Linked DNA regions of Homo sapiens: regions 1 and 2 are each linked to region 3. The links come from fine-mapping of genetic effects on gene expression. A gene starts in region 3. Each other region holds a variant in brackets. All regions are shown on one strand. Distances are from middle to middle.

Region 1 (5,000 bases), 44 kb after region 3:
CTTCAAAAAGAAGGTCCAAGTTTCCACCTGGTGGGCAGCAGGGCCAGCAGGCCACCAGGTGGATGGATACTGGATGATTGGGAGGGGACAGATGGGTGGATAAAGGGTTACTTGGGTGGATAAGGGGCTGGGCAGGCAGTTAAGAGGGACCCAGATGGGGTGATGAGGTATAGAAGTAAGAAGAGGAATGAAGGCAGGAGGCAGCGTGGCTGGGTGGTGTGGTGGTAGAGGAAGGAGTTGCAGCTTTCTTTGGGTAAAATATTGATAGCAATCCCTGCTCTGCCTGCCTCACAGGGTTACTGTCAATCAAATAGGATAGGAATGGATACAAATGTGCCTTCAAGATGCTATTATTGTTGTCGTTAATATTAGTAACAACCCTTGGCCCTGACTTCTCTCTGGGTGGGGTGTCACCCACCAGTACCGCACCAAGACCACCCCAGTTGTCAAGTCCCCCAAGGTGGCACCAGAGGAGGCCCCTCCTCGGCGGATCCTCATCTACGGGGTCCAGGAGGAGAATGGCTCCCATGTGCAGAACTTCGCCCTGGACCTGACCCCGCCGCCCGAGGTCGTTTACAAGTCAGAGCCGGGCACCAGCGATGGCATGAATGTGCTGGGCATCGTCTTCTTCTCTGCCACCATGGGTATGTGCTGCCCACCTGCCCAGCAGTGCCGTGGAGCCGGGCCCCCAGCCCCTCCCAGCAGCCTGCTCCTCCACCTCTTACTGAGGTCTGGGGAGAATGCTGGAGAGGTTTACTGTGAAAAACTGGAAATATTCACCACACCTGTTTATTTAAATCCTTCGCCTCCCCACCCCACCCCAGGGGCTTCCCCCTGGCACCTCCCCCTCAGGCCCGTCTGGGCCATTTCTTAGGCCCGCAGCTGGCATCCCTGCCACACCCTTCCCTTTGCTGCCCTCCTCTGGGATGCCAGGCCCCTCACCTATGCAAGCCCCTTGGAGGCCCGCACCTTGGTTTTTAAATTTTGTGTTATTTTTCTTAAAGATGGGTCCCAAATTATACAAGCTTCAGACCCCACAAAGCCTGTGGAAATGTCCTGCCTGCCATCCCCGACTCCTCCACTGGGTTTTCTTGTCAAGGAAAAGACCTCACCAACCTCGTTCATGCAAAAACTCTAGGGGTGACTTTCTACCTCGTCCTCTGCCTTGGCCCCCACCTTTGCATCCGGTCGGGTCTGCCCCCAAAGTCCCCTCCAAGCCGTGCGTTTCCTTCTACCCCGCGTCACTGCCCGGGTCAAGGCCGTGTGGTCTCTCGCCTGGTTCCTGTGAAAGCTGCCTAGAAAACTTCCACGGCTGTCCCTGCTGGTGTGTCCAGCTCAGGAGGTCACAAGTCTGACCGTGCTCTGCCCATTGCCCCTGGAAAGGGGCCGAACCCCTAGTGCCGGCTGAAAAGCCCCGTGAGACTGGCCCGTGTGCTCCTCTCCGCACAACCCTCAGCCCGGCTGCTCTTGCCACTCCCCCTCCACGTTTGTCATCTTCAGGGTGCTCCCCACAAGTGCCATGCCCTCAGGAGAGTCCTCCGCAGACTAGGCCGAGTGCCCCGAGCTACACTGCCTGGTTACTCTGTGAGCACTAGACTCGATTGCAAGGATATCATTGCTTGCTGTCTGCACAGCCATGACCAGCCCCATACAGGCTGACGGGCTTGTCTCCATCCACCCCAGAGCCCACCGCTGCCGTGGCTACAGCAGGCACTCAGCAGACCTGGTAGGGAGATGGGTGGACGGCTGGGTGACAATGGGTAATGGAGCTCTTCTCATCTGGGCCAAAACGCCAGGTGTGCAGAGGGGCCGGGGCCTCGGTGACCCAAGTGTGTGAAACGAAAATGTCTGAAAGTGCCTCTCGGCACATCTGACAAGCAGTCCCCAAACTCAGCCTTTCTCAGGGCTGGGAACATAAGAGAAGGGCATCTACTGGCAGAACAAAAGAACCGGAGACCCTTGGACTCAACTCGCTGAGCGTTCGCTGCGCATGTGTAACTGTCCGTGCATCTGTGAACATTTGTGTGAGTGTACTGAGGCAGGTCGTATGAGGGTACCGAGGCAGGGCGTGTGAGTGTACTGAGGTGGGACATGTGAGTGTACCAAGACAAAGAGTGTGAGTGTACCGAGGCGGGCGTGTGAGTGTACTGAGTGTGCGTGTGAGTGTACCGAGGCGGTGTGTAAGTGTACCAAGGTAGGGTGTGTGAGTGTACCGAGGCAGGGTGTGTGAGTGTACTGAGGCAGGGTGTATGAGTGTACTGACACTGTGTGAGTGTACCAAGCTGGTGTGAGTGTACCGAGACATGGTTTGTGAGTGTACCAAGATGAGGAGTGTGAGTGTACCGAGGCAAGGTGTGTGAGTGTACTGAGGTGGGGTGTGTGAGTGTACTGAGGCGGGTTGTGTGAGTGTACCGAGTAGGCATGGGTGTACC[G/A]AGGCAGGGTGAGTGAGTGTGACGAGTCAGGGTGAGTGTACTGAGGCAGGGTGTGTGAGTGTACCGAGGTGGTGTGTGTGGGTGTTTCGAGGTGGTGTGAGTGTACCGTTGTGAGATGTGTGAGTGTCCTGAGGCAGTGTGAGTGTAACAAGGCAGTGTGTGTGAGTGTAATGGGGCAGTGTGTGTGAGTGTACCAAAGCGGGGTGTGCGAGTGTACCGAGGAGGGGTGTGTGAGTGTACCGAGGTGGGGTGTGCGAGTGTACCGAGGTGGGGTGTGCGAGTGTACCGAGGTGGGGTGTGTGAGTGTACCGAGGCAGTGCGTGTGGGTATGTGAGTGTACCAAGGCAGTGTGAGAGTACCAAGACGATTTGTGTGAGTGTTCCGAGGCAGGGTGTGTAAGTGTACTGAGGCGGGGTGTGTGAGTGTACTGCGGCAGTGTGTGTGAGTGTAACGAGGTGGTGTGTGTGAGTGTACCAAGGTGGTGTGTGTGAGTGTACCGAGGCGGGTTTTGTGAATGTACCAAGGTGGGGTGTGTGAGTGGACAAAGGCAGGGTATCTGAGTGGACTGAGGTGGTGTGTGTGAGTGGACCAAGGTGCGGTGTGGGAGTGTACCGGTGCAGGGTGTGTGAGTGGACTGAGGTGGGGTGTGTGAATGTATTGAGGCAGTCTGAGTGTACCAAGGCAAAGTGTGTGAGTGTACTGAGGCGGGGTATGGCAGTGTACCGAGGTGATGTGAGTGTACTGAGGCGGGTGTGTGAGCGTACTGAAGCAAAGTGTGTGAGTATACCAAGGCAGTGTGTGAGTGTACCAAGGCAATGTGTGTGAGTGTACCGAGGTGGTATGTATGAGTGTACACAGGCAAGGCATGTGAGTGTACCGAGGCAAGTCGTGTGAGTGTACCGAGGAAAGGTGTGTGAGTGTACCGAGACGGGTTGTGTGAGTGTACCGAGGCAGGTTGTGTGAGTGTACTGAGGTGGTATGTGTATGTGTATTGAGGCAGTGTGTGTGAGTATACCAAGGTTGGGTGTGCGAGTGTACCGAGGTGGTGTGTGTGAATGTACCGAGGCAGCGTTTGTGAGTGCACCAAGGCAGTGTGTATGAGTGGACCGAGGTGGGACGTGTGAGTGTACTGAAACAAGACGTGTGAGTGTACTGAGGCGGGGTGTGTGAGTGTACCGAGGTGGGGCGTGTGAGTGTACTGAGTTGGGTTGTGTGAGTGTACTGAGGCGGGGTGTGTATGTGTACTGAGGCGGTGTGTGTGAGTGTACCAAGGTTGGGTGTGCAAGTGTACCGAGGCGGTGCGTGTGAGTGTAGCGAGGCAGGTTGTATGAGTGTACCAAGGTGGGGTGTGTGAGTATACCAAGGTGGGGTGTGTGAATGTACTGAGGTGGTGTGTGTGGGTGTATGTGGATGTGTGAGTGTTCTGAGGCGGGGTGTATGAGTGTGTCGAGGTGGTGTATGTGAAGGTATCAAGGTGGGGGTGTGTGAGTGTACAGAGAGGCAAGGTGTGTGTGTACCAAGGTGGTGTGAGTGTACCAAGACAAGGTGTGTGAGTGTACTCAGATGGAGTGTGTGAGTGTACTGAGATGGTGTGAGTATAACGAGGTGGTGTGGTGTGTGAATGTACAGAGGCATGGTTTCTGAGTGTACTGAGTTGGGGTGTGTGAATGTACCAAGGCAATGCGAGTGTACCAAGGTGGTATGTGTGAGTGTACTGAGGCAGGGTGTGTGAGTGTACCAAGGTGGGGTGTGTAAGTGTACCGAGATGGTGTGTGTGTGTACTGAGACAGGGTGTGTGCCAAGGTAAGGTGTGTGTGTAACAAGGAGGGGTGTGAGTGTACCGAGGTGGTGTGTGTGAGTGTACCGAGGCAGTGTGAGTGTACTGAGGCAAGGTGTGTGAGTGTACTCAGACGGGGTGTGTGAGTGTACCAAGGTGGTGTGAGTATACTGAGGCAATGGGTATGAGTGTACTGAGGTGGTATGTGTCAGTGTACCGAGGCAAAGTGAGGGTATTGTGGTGGGGTGTGTGAGTGTACCAAGGTGGTGTGAGTGAGTGTACTGAGGCGGTTGAGTGTACTGAGGCGAGGTGTGTGAGTGTACCGAGGCAGGTTGTGTGAGTATACCGAGGCGGGCTGTGTGAGCGTACTGAGGTGGTGTGTGTCAGTCTATCAAGGCAGGGTATGTGTGTGTACCGAGGCGGTATGTGAGGTACTGAGGCAGTGTGAGCGTACCGAGGTGGTGTGTGTCAGTCTATCAAGGCGGGGTATGTGTGTGTACCGAGACGGTATGTGAGGTACTGAGGCAGTGTGAGTGTACCGAGGCGGTGTGTGAGTGTACTGAGGCGGTGTGTATGAGTGTACCAAGGCAGGTTATGTGAGTGTACCAAGACTCTGTGAGTGTACCGAGGCAGCGTGTGTCTGTACCGAGATGGTATGTGTGAGCCTACCGAGGCGGTATGTGTGCATGTACCGAGGCGGGGTGTGTGAGTGTACAGAGGTGGGTTGTGAGTGTACAGAGGCAGGGTGTGAGTGTTTTGAGGCAGTATAAGTGTAATGAGAGGTGGTGTGT
Region 2 (10,822 bases), 20 kb before region 3:
AAAAGGAAGGAAATCCTGATATATGCTACCGCATGGGCGAACGTTGAGGACATTGTGCTAAGTGAAATATGTCAGCCACATAAGGACAAATATTTTATGATTCTACTTATATGAAGTACGTAGAGTGGTGGCATTCAGAGAAAGTAGAATGATGGTTGCCAGGGGCTGGGAGGAGGGAAAATGGGGAGTTATTGTTTAATAGATGCAGAGTTTCCATTGGAGAATATTTTTAAAGTTCTGGGCCGGGCACGGTGGCTCACACCTGTAATCCCAGCACTTTGGGAGGCTGAGGTAGGTGGATCACTTGAGGTCAGGAGTTCGAAACCAGCCTGGCCAACATGGTGAAACCCCATCTCTACTAAAAATACAAAAATTAACCAGCCGTGGTGGTGCACACCTGTAATCCCAGCTGCTTGGGAGGCTGAGGCAGGACAATCGCTTGAACCAGGGAGGTGGAGGTTGCAGTGGGCCAAGATTGTGCCATTGCACTCCAGCCTGGGCAACAAAGTGAGACTTTGTCTCAAAAGAAAATACAAAAATAAAAAAATAAAAATAAAGTTCTGGAGATGGATGATGGTGATCGTTGCATAACAATTTGAATGCACTCAGTGCCACAGAACTGCATGCTTAAAAATGGATAAAATTGTAAATTGTAAATTTTATGAGAAAGTATTTTTTTTTAATTTCACAATGTATTTTTTTTCTTTGAGACGAAGTCTCGCTCTCTTGCCCAGGCTGGAGTGCAATGAATGGCATGATCTCGGCTCACTGCAACCTCCGCCTCCCGGGTTCAAGTGATTCTCCTGCCTTAGCCTCCTGAGTAGCTGGAATTACAGGCATGCACCACAACACCCCACTAATTTTTGTATTTTTTAGTAGAGACGGGGTTTCACCATGTTGGCCAGGCTGGTTTCGAACTCCTGACCTCAGGTGATTCAACTGCTGCGGCCCCCCAAACTGCTGGGATTACAGGTGTGAGCCACCACGCCTGGCCCACAATGAATTTTTTAAATTGGCAATGATTGTATATATTTACAGGGTACAATGGAATTTTTTGATATATGTATACATTACAGAATAATTAAATCAACCTAATTAAAATATCCATCATGTCACATATTTGCATGTGTGTAGTGTGATTTGATTTTTTATTTTGATTTTTATTAGTGATGGGTACACTAGAATCCCAATCCCCACCATATTGAGCTTTGCCAAAATATTGAACATTGCACACAATAGGGAATTTGTCAGCCCACCCCCACTTTGTAGTTCCTGCTGTCTGTTTTCTCCACCTGTATGTCCATGTGTACCCATTGTTATCTCCCATGTATAACTGAGAACATGGAATATTTGACTTTCTGCTTGTCAGTTAGGTGTAGGGAAAAGAAAGAGAGATCAGACTGTTACTGTGTCTATGTAGAAAGGAAAGACATAAGAGACTCCATTTTGAAAAAGACCTGTATTTTAAACAATTGCTTTGCTGAGATGTTAATTTGTAGCTTTGCCCCAGCCACTTTGCCCCAACCTGGAGCTCACAAAAACACGTGTTGTATGAAATCAAGGTTTAAGGGATCTAGGGCTGTGCAGGATGTGCCTTGTTAACAAAATGTTTACAAGCAATATGCTTGGTAAAAGTCATCGCCGTTCTCTAGTCTCAATAAACCAGGGGAACAGTGCACTGCGGAAAGCCGCAGGGACCTCTGCCCTTGAAAGTGGGGTATTGTCCAAGGTTTCTCCCCATGTGATAGTCTGAAATATGGCCTCATGGGATGAGAAAGACCTGACTGTCCCCCAGCCCGACACCCGTAAAGGGTCTGTGCTGAGATGAATTAATAAAAGAGGAAAGCCTCTTGCAGTTGAGATAGAGGAAGGCCACTGTCTCCTGCCTGCCCCTGGGAACTGAATGTCTTGGTATAAAACCCGATTGTACATTTGTTCAATTCTGACATGAGAGAAAAACCGCCCTATGGTGGGAGGCGAGACATGTTTGCAGCAATGCTGCCTTGTTATTCTTTACTCCACTGAGATGTTTGGGTGGAGAGAAACATAAATCTGGCCTACGTGCACGTCCAATCATAGTACCTTCCCTTGAACTTAATGATGACATAGATTCTATTGCTCACGTGTTTGTTGCTGACTTTCTCCTTATTATCACCCTGCCCTCCTACTACATTCCTTTTTACTGAAATAATGAAGATAATAATCAATAAAAACTGAGGGAACTCAGAGACCGGTGCCGGTGCAGGTCCTTGGTATGCTGAGCGCCGGTCCCTTGGGCCCACTGTTGTTTCTCTGTACTTTGTCTCTGTGTCTTCTTTCTTTTCTAAGTCTCTTATCCCACCTGACTAGAAATACCCACAGGTGTGGAGGGGCAGGCCACCCCTTCACTTAGGATAATGGCCTCCAGTTCCATCCATGTTGCTACAAAGGACATGATTTCATTCTTTTCATGCTGCATAGTATTCCACGGTGTATGTGTACTATATTTTCTTTATCCAGTCAACCACTGGTAGACACTTGGGTTGGTTCCATGATTTTGCTAATTTTCTGTAATGTATATTTTACCACAACAGAAAAGAAAAAAACCAATATGTATGTTTCTGCAAAACAAAAAATTTAGACATAGAAAAATATTTGGGAATATAAACTAAAAAGTTATTTCTCAGGGTTGGATTACGGGGAATTTTCTTTTTTTTTTTCTGAGATGGAGTTTTGTTCTTGTTGCCCAGGCTGGAGTGCAATGGTGCAATCTCAGCTCACCACAACCTCCACCTCCCGGGTTCAAGTGATTCTCCTGCCTCAGCCTCCTGAGTAGCTGGGATTACAGGCATGCACCACCACGCCCAGCTAATTTTTTGTATTTTTAGTAGAAATGGGGTTTTGCTGTGTTGGCCAGCCTGGTCTCAAATTCCTGACCTCAGGCAGTCCACCTGCCTTTGCCTTCCACAGTGCTGGGATTACAGGTGTGAGCCACCGCACCTGGCCTATGGGGTATTTACATTTTTCTTAGTTTTTGACAATGAACATGTATTACTTGCAGCATTCACTTTCTTCATTGAAGGAGATAGGGCAAGATAGGCACAAACTGACTCGGCCTGTCCCCTAATGGGCAGTGGTTGGAAGGAAGAGTGCAGCACCACCTGCATGTGTCAAAACAATCTTCATTACTGGGCAGATACTGATTATCCCTGATGGGACCCCACCTGCCTGGACAGAGAGCCCACACCCATTCTTCCACCTTCACTCATGTGGACACTCAGACAACAGCAAGTCCATGGAGAACCACAGAAGCTGTGAAGTTTCCAGATCTCTCATGAGTCTCACTACTGCCTTGCGCTTTTTCTATCCATTCTCTCCCTTATTCACCTGGACAACATTAGTTCATCGAAACTCAGCCCAGCTGACACCTCCCCCGGGAAGACTTCCCTTACCCTCCGAGCTATGTCTAGAGTCCCGAGCTGTCTCTGTGCAGTACATATCCCACAGACTGAGCTCCTGGAGGCAGGGCCAGAGCTCAGCAGCTGTGCAGCCTCGGTGCCCAGCCCAACGCCCAGCCCAGGCAGGAGCTCGGGTTGGCTGAACTGAACAGAAACTATCTTGTTCCTGAGATGTAGCTAGTTTCTTGATAGAGGTCATCCAGTGCTAGCAGCTCAGTTTCCAACTCCATTTTGAGAATTATGGCCAATAATTTGTTTTCCTAAAGCAAAAAGGAGGTGAATCATAAATCCGAGTGGTTTTTGTTTGGCGGACTTTTTCTTTCTTTCTTTTTTTGTCCTTTTTGAGACAGGGTCTTGCTCTGTCACCCAGGCCAGAGTGCAGTGGTACAATCACAGCTCACTGCAGCCTTGACTTCCCTTATTCAATGTTTAGCCTTTAATGCAAATATCACAAGTGGGTCATTGATTATTTTTAAGGGGAAAGGTAACTTTTTGGCAAGCGACTCATGTCCACACACACCCCATATTTGAATTTCATTTGTCAGTGATTCTTACCTGGACTTGAGCTGCTCAAGAGCTGGGAGCCCACCCACTGCATGCCACGTAGTAGGTCTTCGCCCGTGTGCCAATCATTAGAGACACTGGAGCCCTGAAAGCTGCCGATGTTGCCCTGTTGCCATTGGCTTTCACTCTTTCTTGTGCTCTTGCCACATGCCAGGCATTGTTGCAGGTGCTGAGGAGGCAGCAGGGAACAAATCCTACAAAACACGAGCCCACCCCTCCCACCAAACAACACTTACAAACTCTTACCAGAAGCTGGGCCCCATAGACTCACCCATTTTAAAGAAGAGAAAGAGAGAAAGGAAGGAAAGCCTGCACTGCAGGACTCTGGAACAAGTGTGGATTAGGACCCAGAAGTCTTCAGTTTATTTTGAGCTTTCTGGCTGTGTGACTTTGGGAAATCTACTTGACCTGTCACTACCTCAATTTCCTTATTCATAAAATAGGAATAATGACAATATCTGATAAGATTGAGAGAATTAAATTAAACAT[G/A]TAAAGTGCTTAGAATAATGCCTGGCACATGGTAAACAGCCAGTACAAATTACTATTTATTGCGGTTGCTGTTATTACTAACCCAGAGTAGGTCCTGTAACATCTCAGCTTTAGTTTCTTCTCCTGTAAAGGGAACAATACTAACACCTCCCTCATAGGTAAAAGTCTAATGAGATGAAGCAGGTGAAAGCACTTTATCAACTGGGGTTATAAACTAGGTACTCACAGCCTCCAGCAGCAAGCCACTCAGGGAATCCAGGGAGATAAGGGGTAGGAGGCAGAAGGTGTCCAGGAGTCATGGGGTTTGGGATCAGGAACAAGCAGCTGACTCTCAGCTCCAGCAGTTGTGGTCATGCAGATGTTTCCAATGAAGCCACAAATCCAGATTTTTATGTAAGATCCCTAGTTTTTAAATGTTGGCAATTAAGCCAAGTTTTTGTAAGTCACTTTGAGTGCCAATCAATACAAAGGTGCCGCCAATTCGTGACCTGTTATAAACTTTTACAACTATTACTTAATAAACCAAGGGGGTAAACTACGAACGTAGCTGATGCAATAACTCAACTGAAAAGCCGAAAAATAACTAACATTTCATTCTCCCAGTGGCCCTAAGAGACAGGCATTAGCATCCCCATTTTACAGATGAGGAAACTGACCAGAGATGGAAGGTCACAGAATTGCTGAATGGCCAATGGGGCTGGATGCTGTGACTCTGTGACTCCCTAACCCAGTCTTTTTTCACTCTGACTATGCAGCATGATTGCAGCACAGTGTCCTGAGCCCTCAGGCCCCACAACTTCACTGCAGAACTAAAATGCAGGGGAGCCAGCATCCAGACTCATTGTCCTGCCCTGCTCCACAGCGGGAAAAACCTACATGAAGACCATTAACCGCAACACCAATTTATTTTATTTTTTTGAGACAAGGTCTTGCTCTGTCACCCAGGTTGGAGTGCAGTGGCACAATTACAACTCACCACAGGCTTGACCTCCTGGGCTCAAGAGATCCTCCTGCCTCAGCCTTCCAGGAAGCTGGGACTACAGATGTGCACCACCATGCCCAGCTAATTTTTTGATTTTTTGTAGGGATGGGGTCTCACTGTGTTACCTAGGCTGGTCTTAAACTTCTGAGCTCAAGCAATCCCCCTACCTCAACCTTGCAAAGTGCTGGGATTACAAGCATCAGCCACCATGTCTGCTGTGGGTTTTTGTGTTCCATCATTCAACATCTGAATTGCTCCTTGCCTAAAAGAGCTGCTAGGCCATTAAGGTGTCTTTTCAGCAAGGCTTCCAGATCTGTAGGCAACTGAAAGAGAAAAGAGAGGGAAAGGATGTTAGGGTCTCCAGATCAAAAAGAGCCTCAGAACCAGCCCCCAAAGCAATGTACAAAAATGCAGCAGGGTCTATATACTAATATACTCACTTTATATGCACAATCCAAACCATAAGTCTCTACATAGCTGTGGTTTAGACCAGGGGCTCCCATCACCCTCAACTCAATGCGGGGCCCCACCCCCAAACAATTCACTCAGAACTGGGGATTTGATGGGGATATGGGTATGTTTTAAAAGCTCTCCAGTGACTTACCAAGATCACTGATCTACTGAAGACTAAGAGAATTCATTCATTCCCTTTATTCATTCAACAGCCCTTCCTTCCTTCCTTCCTTCCCTCCCTCCCTCCCTCCTTTCTTTCTTTTTCTTTCTCTCTTTCTTTTCTTTCTTTCTTTCCTTCTCTCTCTCTCTTTCTTTCTCTCTTTCTCTCTTTCTTTCTTTCTTCGGAGATGGAGTCTTGCTCTGTCACTGAAACTGGAGTGCAGTGGCGCGTTCTCGGCTCACTGCAACCTCTGCCTCCCGGGTTCAAGAGATTCCTCTGCCTCAGTCTCCTGAGTAGCTGGGACTACAGGCATACACCACCATGCCAAGCTAATTTTTGTATTTTTAGTAGAGAAAAATACGTGTTGGCCAGGCTGGTCTCGAATTCATGACCTCAAGTGATTCACCCACCTCAGCCTCCCAAAGATTACAGGCGTGAGCCACCACACCTGGCCAAACAGCTATTTCTTGAGTACCTACTACGTGGCAGGCACAATATTAGTGTTGGAAATAGAGGGAAATAGAAGACAATGTCCTTACCCTATTCTAGTTGGGAGAGAAAGTAAAAAAAAAAATAGCATAATTTTAGGTACAATATTAATTGTTGTAAAGAAAAACAAAACAAGCTAAGAAAGTAGGGAGTGACTGAGGAGCAGCTTCTTTTATTGAACATTTTAAACGTTTTTTGAATTAAGCTTATTTTTGAGTAGGTAATAGATTTGCAAGTTTTTAAAAAATCAAAATAGAAAAGATGTACCCTGAGAAGACCTGCTCCAGCCTCTAACTCCATTCCATTTTCTGGCCCAAACTTGGTTCCCTGACTGGCAGCGTCAGCACCCCTGGGAACTTGTTAGAAATGCACATTTTTAGGCAGGGCACGGTGGTTCACGCCCGCAATCCCAGAGCTTTGGGAGGCCAAAGCGGAAGGATTTCTTGAGCCCAGGAGTATGAGCCTGCATTGGGCTAGGATTGCGCCACTGCACTCCAGCCTAGGTGACACAGCAAGATGACACAGCAAGATCCTGTCTCAAAAAATAAAATAAAATAAAATAAAGAAAGAAAGAAAAAAGAAAAAAAAGCAAAAGGAGAAAAAGAAAAGAAATGCAGGTTTTGTGGCTCCACTCCGCACCCACTGAATCAGAAGCTGTAGGAGCGGGAGCCAGTGGTTTGCATTTTAACAAACCCTCCCTGTGATGCTAATCCACGCTGAAGTTTGAGAACCGCTGCTCTCTGTTAATAAACACACATTCCTCTTAGTTTCTAATGTGTCTTTCCAATGTCTCTTTCATAAATACTGGTAACACAGGTGTTTATTCTTGTTTTCTCTTTTCTTACACAATTACTAATCTGCACCATAGTTTTATTACTTAATGTATGCTAGAGATCTTTCCATTTAGGTACAAAGTTTATTATTTTCTATACATCCCTATGAAGTCATCGTGTGGATGTATCACAGACTAACCAATTCCCACTGAATGATCGTAGGTTATTTCCATCTTTTGCTGTTACTATTTGCTATTATGGCAGTTGCTAACCTTGCACATGTGTCATTTCGTGCTTGTGCATATCAGAGGATGAATTCCTAGATGTGAGATGCAGGATCAAAGGGTAAATAAACTTGGAAATGTCATAGATGTTGTCAAATTGCTGCTCCTTAAGGATTCCCATCTACAATGAATGAGAGCATTTTGCTTCACCACAAACTTACCAACAGAATGTGTTGGGATTTTGCCAGTCTGTGAGGTGAAAAGTTGTAGCCTAGTGTACTTTGTTTTGTTTTGTTTTTGAGACAGGGTCTCGCTTTGTCACCAAGGCTGGAGTGCAGTGGTATGATCACTGCTCACTGCAGACTCGACTTTCCAGGCTCAAGAGATCCTTTCACCTTAGTCTCCCGAGTAGCTGGGACTACGAGCACAAATCACCGTGCCCAGTTAATTTTTTATTTTTTTGTGGAGATGAAGTCTCTCTATGTTACCCAGGCTGGTCTTGAACTGCTGGGTTAAAGCAATCCTAGCACTTTGGCATCCCAAAGTGCTGGGATTACAGGTGTGAGACACCTTGCCCAGCCACCTAGTGTAGTTTTAATCTATATTTATTGAATGAAGTTGCCCACCTTTGCATATGTTTAAAGCCATCTGTATTTCTTTGACCGTAAACTACCTTTTTGTGTCTTCTGCTCTTTTTTCTGTGAGATTGAGGTATTAGTTCATTCTCATGCTGCTAATAAAGACATACCTGAGACTGGGTAATTTATAAAGGAAAGAGGTTTAATTGACTCATAGTTCAGCATGGCTGGGGAAGCCTCAGGAAACTTACAATCGTGGCAGAAGAGGAAGCAAACATGTCCTTCTTCACAAGGTGGTAACAAGGAGAAGTGCCGAGCAAAAGGGGGAAAAGCCCCTTATAAAACCATCAGATCTCATGAGAACTCACTCACTGTCATGAGAATAGCATGACGTTGACCACCCCCATGATTAAATTACCTCCCACAATACATGGGGATTATGGGAACTATAATACAATTCAAGATGAGATTTGCGTGGGGACACAGCAAAACCACATCAATTAATAATCTTGTATTTCTTTATTTCTAGAAGCTTTTTATATATTAAGGGAATTAATCCTTGGTGATATGAGCTGCAAATAATTTTTCCCAGTTTGTCTCTTGTTTTTTGACTTATGCTTAAGTAGTTTTTGTTTTGTTTTTTGAGACGGAGTCTCACTCTGTTGCCCAGGCTGGAGTGCAGTGGCATGATCTTGGCTCACTGCAACCTCTGTCTCTCAGGTTCAAGCAATTCTCCTACCTGAGCCTCCCAAGTAGCTGAGATTACAGTAGCACGCCACCACACCCAGCTAATTTTTGTATTTTTAGTAGAGACGGGGTTTCACCATATTGGTCAGGCTGGTCTCAAACTCCTGACCTCGTGATCCACCCACCTTGGCCTCCCAAAGTGCCAGGATTACAGGCATGAGCCACCGTGCCTGGTCACTTAAGTAGTTTTTTAAATTTTGGTTTGACTTTTAATTTTTAATATTGTTTTCTACCTAAAATTTAGTTCTTGAAAATCAGAATTTAGTAACTCATTCAAAATTTATTACAGGGCTGATCAGGGCCTATCAGAAGCAAATGACCAGGCCCCTTCCCTCAAGGAAAAGGCACCCCTTTTTCCTTTCCCCTCCACTCCTCTCTGGGTGGGTACCTGCAACCAGGATGCCATGGTTCCCTGTGGACCAGCCACAGGGAATGGAAATAGTCAGGTGGCTGGGGGAGCACCAGGCTCTCCCCATACTGGCTTTGTGGCCTCAGCTATGTGACCCCTGCCCTGTGGAATCCGAGTGAGCATGTACACAACCCCACTGTGGGAACAGGGAGGGGCCTAGGGCTAGGGGCCTTCTTGCCTTCATAGGACAATACTCTGTGGCCCTGGACCTTTGGCCCAGGCCAGGCTTCCCACACCCCATGTGACTGGCAGCCACGATGCCTGGGCCCCTGCCCTGCTCAGAAGTCATTCAGATGTTCTCATTCTGGTTCAGGGTCCAGCAGACCTCTTTGGCCTCATCTCCAATCTCTGGCCTGAGCTCTCCTCTTGGACTTGAGGGAGGGAACCAGCTTCTCTGCCTGTGGCCCTCAACCACCTTTTCTTCCTATAATCCACCTTATGCATCAACTTTGAAAATTAAAGAAGGTAACAGATACCAAAAGAAAGTTAGTTTTATCTATAATATTTGTATACATATATTTATGTAGTATCCACTCTGTGTCAGGCACAAAGAAAGTAGTATTTTTTTTTGAGCTACATGTTTTCTCCTATGATTTTTCAATATAAATATTAATATATATCACTATACAGGTGGTTCCCAACATAGGTTGGCTTGACTTAACCATTCTTTGACTTCATGATGGATTTTCTGAGCCACAACCCCATCATAAGTAGCTGTAAATAATTATGTATAAAGGAAGAAATGTTTTTTCCATCAATGGGGCCAAGAATCCAATATACAGAAGAGTGTATAACTTTTTAATCCCCCAAAAGAATAAATTATTCTAATAACTAAACATGGATTTACAAGTGAAATTCTGGAAGGCAGGCCCATTTGCAGATTTGTAAGTAGGTTGATGGTACATTTTCTATCTGCTGCTCAACGCTAAGCTCTGAGAAGGCAGAGGCCAAGTCCCCACAGTGTTCACAAATTACTCCTGGGAACAACTTACTAATGAAGGAATCATGGAGAAGGTGACCTAATCAAACACTTTTTTTTTTTTGGAGACGGAGTCTCGCTCTGTCGCCCAGGTTGGAGTGCAGTGGCGCGATCTTGGCTCGCTGCAAGCACCACCTCCCGAGTTCACGCCATTCTCCCGCCTCAGCCTCCCGAGTAGCTGGGATTACAGGTGCCTGCCACCATGCTCGGCTAATTTTGTTTTTGTATTTTTAGTAGAGACGGGGTTTCACCGTGTTAGCCAGGATGGTCTCAAACTTCTAACCTCAGGTGATCCGCCCACCTCGGCCTCCCAAAGTGCTGGGATTACAGGCGTGAGCCACTGTGCCCGGCCTCAGAATGGTAGATTTTAACATGTTTCAATCAATTGATAGATCAAGTAGACCAAAAAAAAAAAAAAATGAGCACAGATACAGGAGATTTGAACGAATGGATTCTCAAGTTTAATCTAATGGATATGCATATAACACTGGACTCATCTGCAAAATACACAGTCTTTCCAAGCACATGTGGAGCATTT
Region 3 (10,698 bases):
TGACAAAGATATAGACAAACCAACCAATGGGAACCCAGAAACAGACCCAGACATATACAGAACTTGATTTTATTTCAGAGCAGCCATTTTAGTTTCAGGTGGAAGGATAGATTTTTCAATATGTGATACTAGGACAATTAGTAGATCTTAAAGAAAACGGGATATTAGACTCTTACATCAGTCTTTAACCAGGTTAGTTAATTACCTGTATGAGAAAAGGAAAAGTAAACTACTCTTAGAAATTTACACAGAAGAATAACTTTACTGGAGTGGGAGGTTTTTAAAATAAGACAGAGACAAGTCATAACAAAAAAGAATGATAGATTCAGTTACATTAAAAGTTAGAACTTCTGTTTATCTAAAGACAGATAAGTCATAAACAGGAAAACACATATAAACAATAAAGAGTTAATATCCAGATTATATAAAGAATATTTATAATGTATGTGAAAAGACAAACAACCCAATTAAAAATAGGCAAATGAACAGCAATTTCACCAAAGAGGAGGCATGGATGACTCACAAACATAGGACAATATATTCAGTCTCACTAATCAGGGAAATGCAAATTTAAACCACTATGGAACACCATTTCACACCTACCAGATTGGCAAGAGTTAAAAATTAATCAATATCAAATGTCAGTAACCATGCGGAACAATGGGAACTTACAGACATTGTGGGTGAACATATTAGTTGGTAAAACTAATTTGGAAACAGTTATTACCTACTAACGTTGACCATCTGCATAATCTGTGACCTAGCAATTCTATTGCTACGTATATATCCTAGAGAAACTCTTGTACATGTACATTAGTATTCAAGAATGTTTCTAGCAGCGTTGTTAAAATGATGGTCAAAAACTGGAAAAAAAAACCACAAACGTTCATAAACAGTATCTTATATATAATATTCCATTCATATCATGGAATGCTATATCACAGAGAAGAAAATTAACATTTTTTCAACAACATTGATGAATCAACAACTCAACAACATTGGTGAATCCTGTGCACTCTGTGGGTGAGGCCCCAGGTGCCTGCTGCCATAAAGGGCCGAGGCAGACATCAGAGAAGAAGACAAGCAACAAGGAACCTCGAGCCACTGACCCTAAGTTCTAGAGCAGCCTCACTGGATATAAGATGTTAGGCATTTTACACAAGAAAGAACAGAAAACCAAGGTTTTACTAAGCAAGCCATGCCAAGAGCTGAGTGCCTGGGACAATGTACTAGATATTTTGCTGTGTCTGCCTCATGTATCCACTTTTCTAACTGCTACTACACACATCTACAGAGTTACCATAGAAGCAGCAACTGTAAATAATGTGACCCTGCTCCCTGCCCCTACTGGCTGCAGGAGATTGGTCTAAACTGGGCCAGTCAGAACCTTCCCTGAGAACTGTGGCACTGGAGTGAAACAGAGCTGCTGGTGGCCATGCTTCCTCCCTGTGGACCACAGTAGTAGTGGAGATGGGTTCATTAGAGAAAGAATAATGTAACATAAATGTCATCACCAAATGTAGGCTCTATAAAAGCAGGGATTGTTGTCTATTTCGGTTTATTACAGTATTCCAAGTGTCCGGAATATGTCTGGCACATAGTAATAATAGTAACATAGATATAGATAGATAGATAGATAGTGCTTACTATGATCAGACAACTGTCTTAAGCTTCATACATGTAATTCATTTGCTCCTTATAACAACCCTATAAGGTAGAATATTATTATCCCTACACTCAATATGAGAAAACTAAAACTGGAACACAGAGTAACTTGCCTACAGTTCCAAAAAGAGTAGGTGAAGGAGCTAAGATTCAAACACAAGTCATTTGGTTCCTGAGTTTGTGCTCTTAATCAATACCTTATGCCACCTCTCAACATATATATGTTGAATGAAGAATGAATGGACAAATCAGACATGTAGAAAGGAGAGCTGGTGTGAGAGATAATTCCATTAACAATCAAGTACCTGGTTCAGAGGGTCTTTGCAGTTCAGTTCTGCTCTTGTCCTTGGGTTCTGCAAAACCCATGCTCACCTGGTCTTATAAATGGGACCGGTTTCCTGGTTCTATGATCTGCGCAGTAGCACAGGGCCCCATGCTCAGAAGGGCCCCTGTGCTTGGTTTAATGCTCTGTTGTCACTGTCACTAAATTCTTAATAATTTTATCTTTGAACTTGTGTCTTATAAGCAAAGTCTGATGGGACAATAGAGTATACACACAAACAGAAAAAACACGTCCAATATACATGCCGCCACTGGTAGTTGCCACTCCATCCTCATACAGCGTGTGTAATGTCCCATGAGCACAGAGTTCTGGTAAACTGGCAACGCATGGGAGTTCAGCAAGACTCAAATAGGTGTCAGGTAAGTGTGTTATGTCCACAGCTAAGTAAGCAGAGGCACCAAGACTCACGAGAAGCCTCACTTTCCTCAAACCAGAACTTGTTTCGAACATAGGAAGAACAAAAAATTGCATTCTAAAAATGCAAACGACCAAGGAATTTTATCATATCCTTTCTTACTAGTGTTACTCACCTGCATTAGCCAACTACTTAAACACTGAAAGTGATAACATCAACAGCAAGGGAATGAGAGGACCACCAGAGTTCCTTTTCTTTCCAGTTCTTCCTTACTCATCAGTGAGTCAAAGGTAGAGAGGACAGATGGAATGGATATGCATTGAGAAGTGAAATAAAAACAGTTGGATTAGTTTTGTGCAGCATTTCCACCATCTGGCAAAAAATGAAATACACACGCATGTATGAGCTACTAAATACAAACTGTATAACTTTGGTGATTCTGCATGTGAGTTAAATGCTCTTATATTTGCATTTAAAACTGGCATTGCACAGTGAGTGTGAAGATGAAGGGCCGGACACGGTGGCTCATGCTTGTAATCACAGCACTTTGGGAGGCCAAGGTGGGCGGATCACTTGAGGTCAGGAGTTCGAGACCAGCCTGACCAACATGGTGAAACCCCATCTCTACTAAAAATACAAAAATTAGCCGGGCGTGGTGGTGTGCGCCTGTAATCCCAGCTACTCAGGAGTCTGAGGCAGGAGATTCTCTTTAACCCAGGAGGCAGAGGTTGCAGTGAGCTGAGATCAAGCCACAGAACTCCAGCCTGGGTGACAGAGTAAGACTCCAGCTCAAAAAAAAAAAAAAAAAAAAAAGGTGAATGATAAAGTTAATGCTACTAATTTAAAATTGTTATTTTTATTTACTTAAGAATGACAAAATCACAAATAAAAAACATCATGATAAGTTGAGAGAGAGAAACTGTGGAAGAAATAAAGCTATATATTTTAGTACCTTTGATGCACTTTTTTCCTGCTTTTGGAAAGAAGAGCCCCACGTGCTCATTTTGCAGTGGGCCTCACAAATTACACAGTCAGCCCTGCTTATAAATTCCCTTTTAACCAAAGCCAGCTTGATTTAGTTTCCTAGTATTTATTAACAAAAATCCTAACTAATTTGGAAACCTAATCTAAACTGGCTGGAGGGTTTAACTTTATACTTTGTCCTAACTTTTATATGCAAATGAGAGGAAGTATGATGCAATGGAAAGTGCATGGGCTTTTATAGGCACAGAAAAGAGGCTCTGAGAGGTTCGCTAACTTCGGCAAAGTCGCACACCTTCCAAGCCAAAGGCTGAGCTTTGAATTTGGTTCAGGGTGACTGTAGAGAGTTCAGTAGAACTTTCTGTGATCATGGAAACGTTCTCTAACTGTGCTGTCCAACATGGTAGCTACTGGCCACATACAGCTATTGAGCCCTTGAAATGTGGCTAGTGCAACGGAGGGACTGAATTCTAAACTATATAAATTTTTTTTTGAGACAGGATCCTACACTGTTGCCCAGCATAGAGTGCAGTTCCATCACGGCTCACTGCAACTTCAAATTCCCAGGCTTCAAATGATCCTTTCACTTCAGCCTGCGAAGTACCTGAGACCACAGGCACACACGACCATGCCCAGTGAATTTTTAAAATTATTTGTATAAGCAGGGTCTCCCCATGTTGCCCAGGCTGGTCTGAAACTCCCGGGCTCAAGCCATCTTCCCACCTCAGCCTCCCAAAGTGCTGGGATTACAGGCATGAACCTCTGGGCCTGGTCCTATTTAATTTTGATTAATTTCAATTTAAGTAGTGTAATGGATGCTATGTAATTGTACTGCACAGACTTAGAGCCCCCAGGCTTGACTGACCCAGTGAATGTGGAGGGGTCCCTGGCTCCCCCTGGTCAGGGCCCTTCTAGGTGAAGGTGTCAGAGTACCCAGCCAGAGCCTGGTACACAGTCGGTGCTCAACACAGAGCGGCTCAGGGGCTTATGGGCGCCCAGGCCTCATTTCCATTAAGTGACAGATTTAGACGGGGGACTGGAAGGGAAAAAGGAAGGCGTGTGTCTGAGTTGCCACCACAGAGTCACTTTCTCCCATCCTCTGAGGCAAATGTGGGAAAGGACTAGCCCTCAGCGAGGTCAGGACAGCCCCTCGGTGACTAAAGCTCGCAGGAATCCACACCCAGCTGGATCAGCTGCATTTGTTGCCCACAGAAAACCTTCCCGGAAGGGCCCAGCTTCCAGCGAGCTGGGAAGACGTGTCAGGGAGATTAAGGCGCCTCTGGTATGTCTCTGGAAAGCAGCCAACATACCCCGAGCTGTCGTCACGACAGACCCAGATGGGAGCTCACCCGGCCAGACCTAAACTCATTTTGACACATGGTGGAAGGTGTAAGGCCCCAGCCCCGATGGCCACTGCAGCCCACCGATGCACTGCTAGCCCTGGGAGGCCCTGCTGTCACGCCTCCGGCCTAAATCAGACTGTCGTCTCCCCTCTCCCTTGACCAGCACCCCCTTCCCTGGCTTATTGAGGCCTCTGCCTAAACCACGTCTCCTCTGGGAAGCCTTCCTATCCCCGCCTTCCCAGGCTGGGTTGGCCCTGCCTGTAGCCCTGGCGAATCATTAATCATTAATCATTAGCAAATAAGTCAACCCCTGCTGCTCTCCCCACAGCATAACCCAAGCAGAGGGCCCGGTGAAGAACAGCTCAACTGCACACCTGCTTCTGCAGGGTGAGGCAGCTGCACCTGTGACTTGGCGTTCATTTTCGCCAACACCATGTCTCTTCTTTGCCATAGCATCTCAGTCTGTCCAGCTCAAGCCTCCCCAGAAGCATCTCTGAGGCCGCCTGCTGCCCATTATACAACACCTTGCTCCTCAGGCTATCCCTAGCACCCCGCTGCCCCTGCCAATATACCCTCCAACTTTGAGGATTCTCCATTGAGGTGATTTCAAATGACATGGTAACAAACAGAGATTTGATTTTATTTTCATAGATTCTTATTTCCTTGTCAGAGCCACTTAAAAGGGAGCTAGGTGAATCCCCAGCTGGTGACTGTGAAGGGCCTGAGTTAGAGTGAGAAAAAGAGAAGGTATTGTATCTAGGGTAATCAGGGAAGGCTTCGAAGAAGAGGGGGATTTAACCTGTAACTTTCGTGACAAGGAAGGACATTCTAGGCCAAGGAAATAGCACAGGCAAAGGTGCAGAAGCCTGAGACAGGATGCAGCGTTCCAGGACCCTGCAGTGGTTTGGTGTCATAGGAGCTGGAGGGGTGACGGAAGGAGTAGGAGGTAATGCTGAAAGGGTGAGGAAAAGGGTGAAAGTGCCTTGCAGGGGAGCATAGACTCGATGCTGCAGACCGGGGTTTCCCAGGCGTGTTCTCCAAACACCAGGCCCAGGGAGTTCTCTGCTCCAGAGGAGGGGTGGGATTCTCTATTCTCCACTTGGTGACTTCCTCCGACACAGCCGCTACTGTAAAGACTTTCATAGTAACTACCTGGGGCTATCTGCAAGGCACTGGGCCACGCTCTAACCATGGCGCATGCAGCACTGTATGACCCACATCAAAACCCTATGATCTAGGTACTGTTGCATTATCCCCATTTTACAGGGAAGTTAAGAAATGTTCCCAAGGTCACACAGCTGGTTGAAGGTAGAGCTGAGGTTTTAACTCTAGCAGTCTGACTTTGAGCTGTCTCAGAGGAAATAACGTGCTTAACTTTTTGTTTCGTCCAGCATTTCCCAAACTTCCTTTTGATGTAATTATGGAAAAATTGTCTTGCACATCTAGTGACATTGTAAAAGGCAGTTGATTCTTTGTCAATGGTGAACTATTATAGGGTTCTGACCCAGGAGACTTGATTTGATTTGCAAATATTCTTAGTAAACTCATTATCAGTCACTTACACTTTAGTGTGAATTAGTCCGTTCTTGGGGTCTCTCCACTTTCTTATAAGCTTCCTGAAGGCAGGGCAGGTACTGTCTGATTCACTGTTGTGTTTCTAGTACCCAGGGGGTGTGGCACACTAAATGGTGCTATAAGAACATTTGCTAGAGTGAGTTGAAATTCTCCTGTTGAAGACCGTAGGAACAGTGGAAAGAATGGCTGTAGTCTGGTAGGCAGGTAGTGGTAGGCTCAGCCTGTGGGAGAGAGGAGTCAGTGGTGGCTATAGGGCACGTCCTGGGAATGGGAGTCATGGAGCTGTGGTAGAAAGCAAGACTCACCTATATCATGGCACAGCTAAAGGCCAGGTCTGGGCTGGGTGTGGTGGCTCATGCCTGCAGTCCCAACACGTTAGGAGGCCAAGATGGGAGGATTGTTTGAGCCCAGGAGTTGATCAAAACCCAAATCCAAATACCTACTTAGCATATTTTCTCTTCTGGGAAGTAACTAACCACCTGATTATTTGGAAAATGAGGCATTTGTTGGAGTTGAAGGTGTAGCAAGAAACTTTTGGTTTTAAGAGTCAAAGTCAGAGGAAAAAAAACTCTCAGACTTGTATTCACCCCCACCCCCCACCCCAAGCTACTGCAAAGAGCAGGGGCTTTGGAAGATTGGTTTGTTGAAATGAAGTTCCTTTGACAAAGGTACCTGGGCCCATTTCTCTCATTCTAAAAAGGACAAGACTGATACCCAGAGACGGCAAGGTCACAGAGCTGATTAAATTGGGATCAGAATCTTCTCAGTCAGGAGCTCTGTCCATGGCTTCAGAGCCTGTGCCCCAGTCCCCTCTCCCCACCTCTCCCCTATGCCCCACTTGGCCCGTCCTCTTCATCCTCTGCCCCTGTCTCCTATGTCAGGAGGAGGAAGCCCCTGTGTGCACCCCACCCTTTACCTCCCACCCTCACTGCAGACTGCACTTCCCATTCCCTGCTGCCTGCTGCCTGACTGCTCCTAATGAGATTACAGATCTCTGGTGAAATAGACGAGGGTTAATTCCCCCAGGCTTTACAGGGCAGGGCAGGCCAGGCCACAAGAAATAGCAAAAAGACACCTATTCTCCAAAGCACTAAGTGTGATAATGACCCTAAGAGTCCGTTCCCCTGTTCAGCACACCAGGGTTCACACTGCGTTTCCAAATACCCTCTGGGTGGAATTTTGTACCAGCCCTAACAAAGTAGATGCTGTTATCATCTCTATTTTACAGATGGAGAAACTGAGGCACAGTGAGATGAAATGCTTGTCTGAGGTCACACAGCTAGTAAGTGGCAGAGCTGGGACCCGAATGTGGGTCTCTTGGGCTCTGTCATCTTTAAAAAATAATAGGCCCAGAGAGCCTGCAGGGTGCCCAGCACCAGGCTTGAAACAGCCCTGAAGCATCTACGTCCCATTTCCCGGTGAGTGGCACAGCCCACCTTTGAACTCAGGTCCCCTGGACTCGAATCTACATTCCCCACAATACTGCCAAGCACCCTTGAACCTATCTGCCTGTTCATGTGGTGGAAACAGACTGGCCTAGCCCTGACTTCTGACCTCTGTGACCATGGCCAAGGGACTGGCTTCTGGGGTCTCAGCCTCCCTTTCTGAAAAATGAAGGTGGGAACCCTGGGATCTTTGGGACAATTCCCTATGATTGGCATAGCTAAGGCAGCCAGCACAGGCCTGGCCCGCAGCACATGCACCCACCCACCTCAGTTTCTTTATCTGTAAAATGGTGATATTAATAGTACTTATTTCTTGGGATTGGTGTTAGGATTAAATATGCCAGTACATGTAACACTCTTCTAGAATGGCACCTGGTGCATAGTAAATGCTTAATTAATGTTGAGGGAAACTGATATCTTACTGTCTTGTTTTTGATTCTTTCTGGAAGGAAGCAGGGGTAAAGATCAAACCAACCAAGCAAATGTTCCTCTTGTTCCTTCCAGTACCTGGTCCACTCAACTGTTTAAGAGGAACGCTTGGCTTTGAGGCCTGAACTCCTAGACCACGTGGTCTGCTCTAATTTCCCAGGCCCTAATCTGCTCCCAGCTCCTAATGATGCAGCTGGTAATAGGATTGTGGCTTCCCTCTAAGGCGGCCACACGGGCATGGCCGTGGGGCTGGCGACTGGTGTTTAGCAACTCCGACCACCTGCCTGCTGAGGGGCTAGAGCCCTCAGCCCAGACCCTGTGCCCCCGGCCGGGCTCTCATGCGTGGAATGGTGCTGTGCCCCTTGCCAGCAGGCCAGGCTCACCATGGTGCCGCATGCCATCTTGGCACGGGGGAGGGACGTGTGCAGGCGGAATGGACTCCTCATCCTGTCTGTGCTGTCTGTCATCGTGGGCTGCCTCCTCGGCTTCTTCTTGAGGACCCGGCGCCTCTCACCACAGGTCAGCCACCCAGAGCATCTCGGGACCCCTGTCCAGGAGGGGCGTGTGGGCCTGAGGGATCTGGGGTCCCGTTCTAGCATCACAGCTCCCTGGTGCCATGACAGTGTGTGAATCCCTCTGCCTCTCTGGGTCCTGGTTTTCTCATCTGTAACATGGGTGTGATAAACACTTTGCAGGACTAGAGGGAAGAACCAGTGATGTGGCTGGGGAGTGATTACAAACCCAGCACCATCAGGTGAGGAGAGGCGAGGGTGCCTCATGATGACAAACACAGGGCCAAGAGCTGTGGCGGGGAAAGAGGGGGGTCTTGTGTGAGTTCAAACAGGCACCAGAGAACACCTCCTAAAGGCTGCTCAAATGACAAGAGATCCAGGAAGCGTGCTCTAGGCAGAGGTGACAGCAGATGCCAGGTGCAGCGGCCGGAGCGCAGAGGCCAGCAGGCCCATAGGTCCCATCGCCACACGTGGGCTTGCGGCAACCATGAGATGCTTTTGGGCAGAAGAGCGACAGGCCAGTTTGGAGCTTGGGAGACCCCTCAGGTGCTGAGTGGAGAGGGGGTGATTCTGGGGCAGGCAGGGGGCCGAGAAGGGGCAGCCTGGGGGAGATGCGGCAGTGCAGACAAAAGGGACAGACGTGAGAACTGTTTTCAAAAGGGGGAGCTTCAGGATGTGGGGGCCGATTGGATGTGGGCTGGGGGACAGGAAGGGGAGCCAGGCCCCGGGTTTCCAGCCTGTGTAACTGCCATGAAGAAGCTGCGTTTCCTGGGAAAGAGCCCCTTTCCCTGTCAGCCCCCATCTCCTACAGGAGAGGGAGGGACATTCCCATGGTGTTAAGGACAAAATCATTCTGCCACTAGTTAAACTGGTAAGGAAGGCTCTATTCAGGACTATTGTGGTAGGGGGGTAGTTATCAAGACCTCCTGGGGAGAGAGATGGGACCCAACCACAAATACAACAAAGATGGCTGGAGATTTATAGCCAGCGAGCAGAGGGAGGGGGTCGGGGACAGAAAATGACTACAGGAGACATCAGGGTAGGGGGATTCTTGTTGAAGGCAGGCCAGGGTGATCAGACATTGATCTGGGATGAGGAATTTGATCCAGTATCAGGATGCTGGAGGGTGAGGGATCCTCACTAAACTGACTTGGCAGGACTTTTGCTACAGCTGGACTATGCAGGCTGAAGACAAGGCCCAAGGACAAAGCCCAGTGGAAAAGAGGGCTCAGAGGAGCCTGTCTAAAGTGTGGTCAAGGAGAGAGGCTTTGTCAATGGGCTCCTGGAAGAGTCCCTATTCCCAGAAAGTCCTCTTCCCGCAGCTCACTAATGTCTAATGCCATCTCTACAACTGGGGTCAGGCATTAGACTTTGTCTTCCATTAAAAGGAAAACACCCACTCCTGGAGAACTGAGCCACGACTATAGTGACCCTGTTAAGCCTCGAGCAGTTATTTAGGAAGAAGCATGGACTCTGGAGGCAGAGAAACCCTGAACTTTGACTCTGCTAGCAAATGGCTAGGCAATATCCTCTCTCCTCCCTGGGCCTCAGTTTCCTTGTCTGTAAAATGGGATGTGGGGCAGTATATGTCTACTAGAATTATTATGAGGAATAAACCAAGGATTCATCAATGCCCAGCATACAGTAGGTGCTTACTACGTGTTACTTCCCCCTCCCTCCCTTATGTACCTGTTAAAGTCCTATCTACATCAGGAACCATCTCATCATCCATAGCTGATGAAAGTAACTGTAACCCCGCTGCTGGCTGCCTGGCTTCAGAGCTGGTTATATGGGTGTCTCTTTCTCCCACCAAGCTGCATATTGCTGAACAACATATGGGTTTGTTTTTTTTTTTAACCAAAACGTGAGCCTAGCCCTGTGTCAGGCACAGAGAGAACGCTCAACTATCTGCTGCATTAAACTGGCAATGGAACAAAAAAATCTGCAATCTGTTCTCTTTAATTTTCCTCAGCAACAAAAATATATCTCCTGCAGGAAGATTATTTTGTGAAAACAAATTGGAATGCCTATTATTAAAAGCCAAACTCAT

Alleles and levels. Alleles are on the strand shown, and positions count from the first base shown. SD is a standard deviation of normalised expression in the study named. Not every link is listed here.
For the expression in left ventricle of the gene that starts at base 8,332 in region 3, A is the high allele of the variant in region 2 and G is the other (small effect, 0.17 SD a copy in GTEx).

What was found. PIP is the estimated chance that this variant, and not a neighbour inherited with it, causes the effect.
Region 1: its variant is the best candidate, but not a certain one, in a credible set for the expression of SLC1A7 in whole blood (INTERVAL, PIP 0.71).
Region 2: its variant is the best candidate, but not a certain one, in a credible set for the expression of SLC1A7 in left ventricle (GTEx, PIP 0.71).

What each region holds. Positions count from the first base shown.
Region 1 is chr1:53,098,990-53,103,989 of GRCh38, reverse strand. It overlaps SLC1A7 (solute carrier family 1 member 7), which reads left to right. Exons shown (of 11, transcript NM_006671.6): 5 at 422-644. Among named protein-coding and RNA genes, the nearest start is that of PODN, 39 kb to the right of the region's middle. The variant G/A (reference allele first, on the strand shown) is at 2,433.
Region 2 is chr1:53,159,802-53,170,623 of GRCh38, reverse strand. No RefSeq gene overlaps it. Among named protein-coding and RNA genes, the nearest start is that of SLC1A7, 23 kb to the right of the region's middle. The variant G/A (reference allele first, on the strand shown) is at 4,491.
Region 3 is chr1:53,140,272-53,150,969 of GRCh38, reverse strand. SLC1A7 (solute carrier family 1 member 7) reads left to right here and starts at 8,332. Exons shown (of 11, transcript NM_006671.6): 1 at 8,332-8,655. The coding sequence starts at 8,521.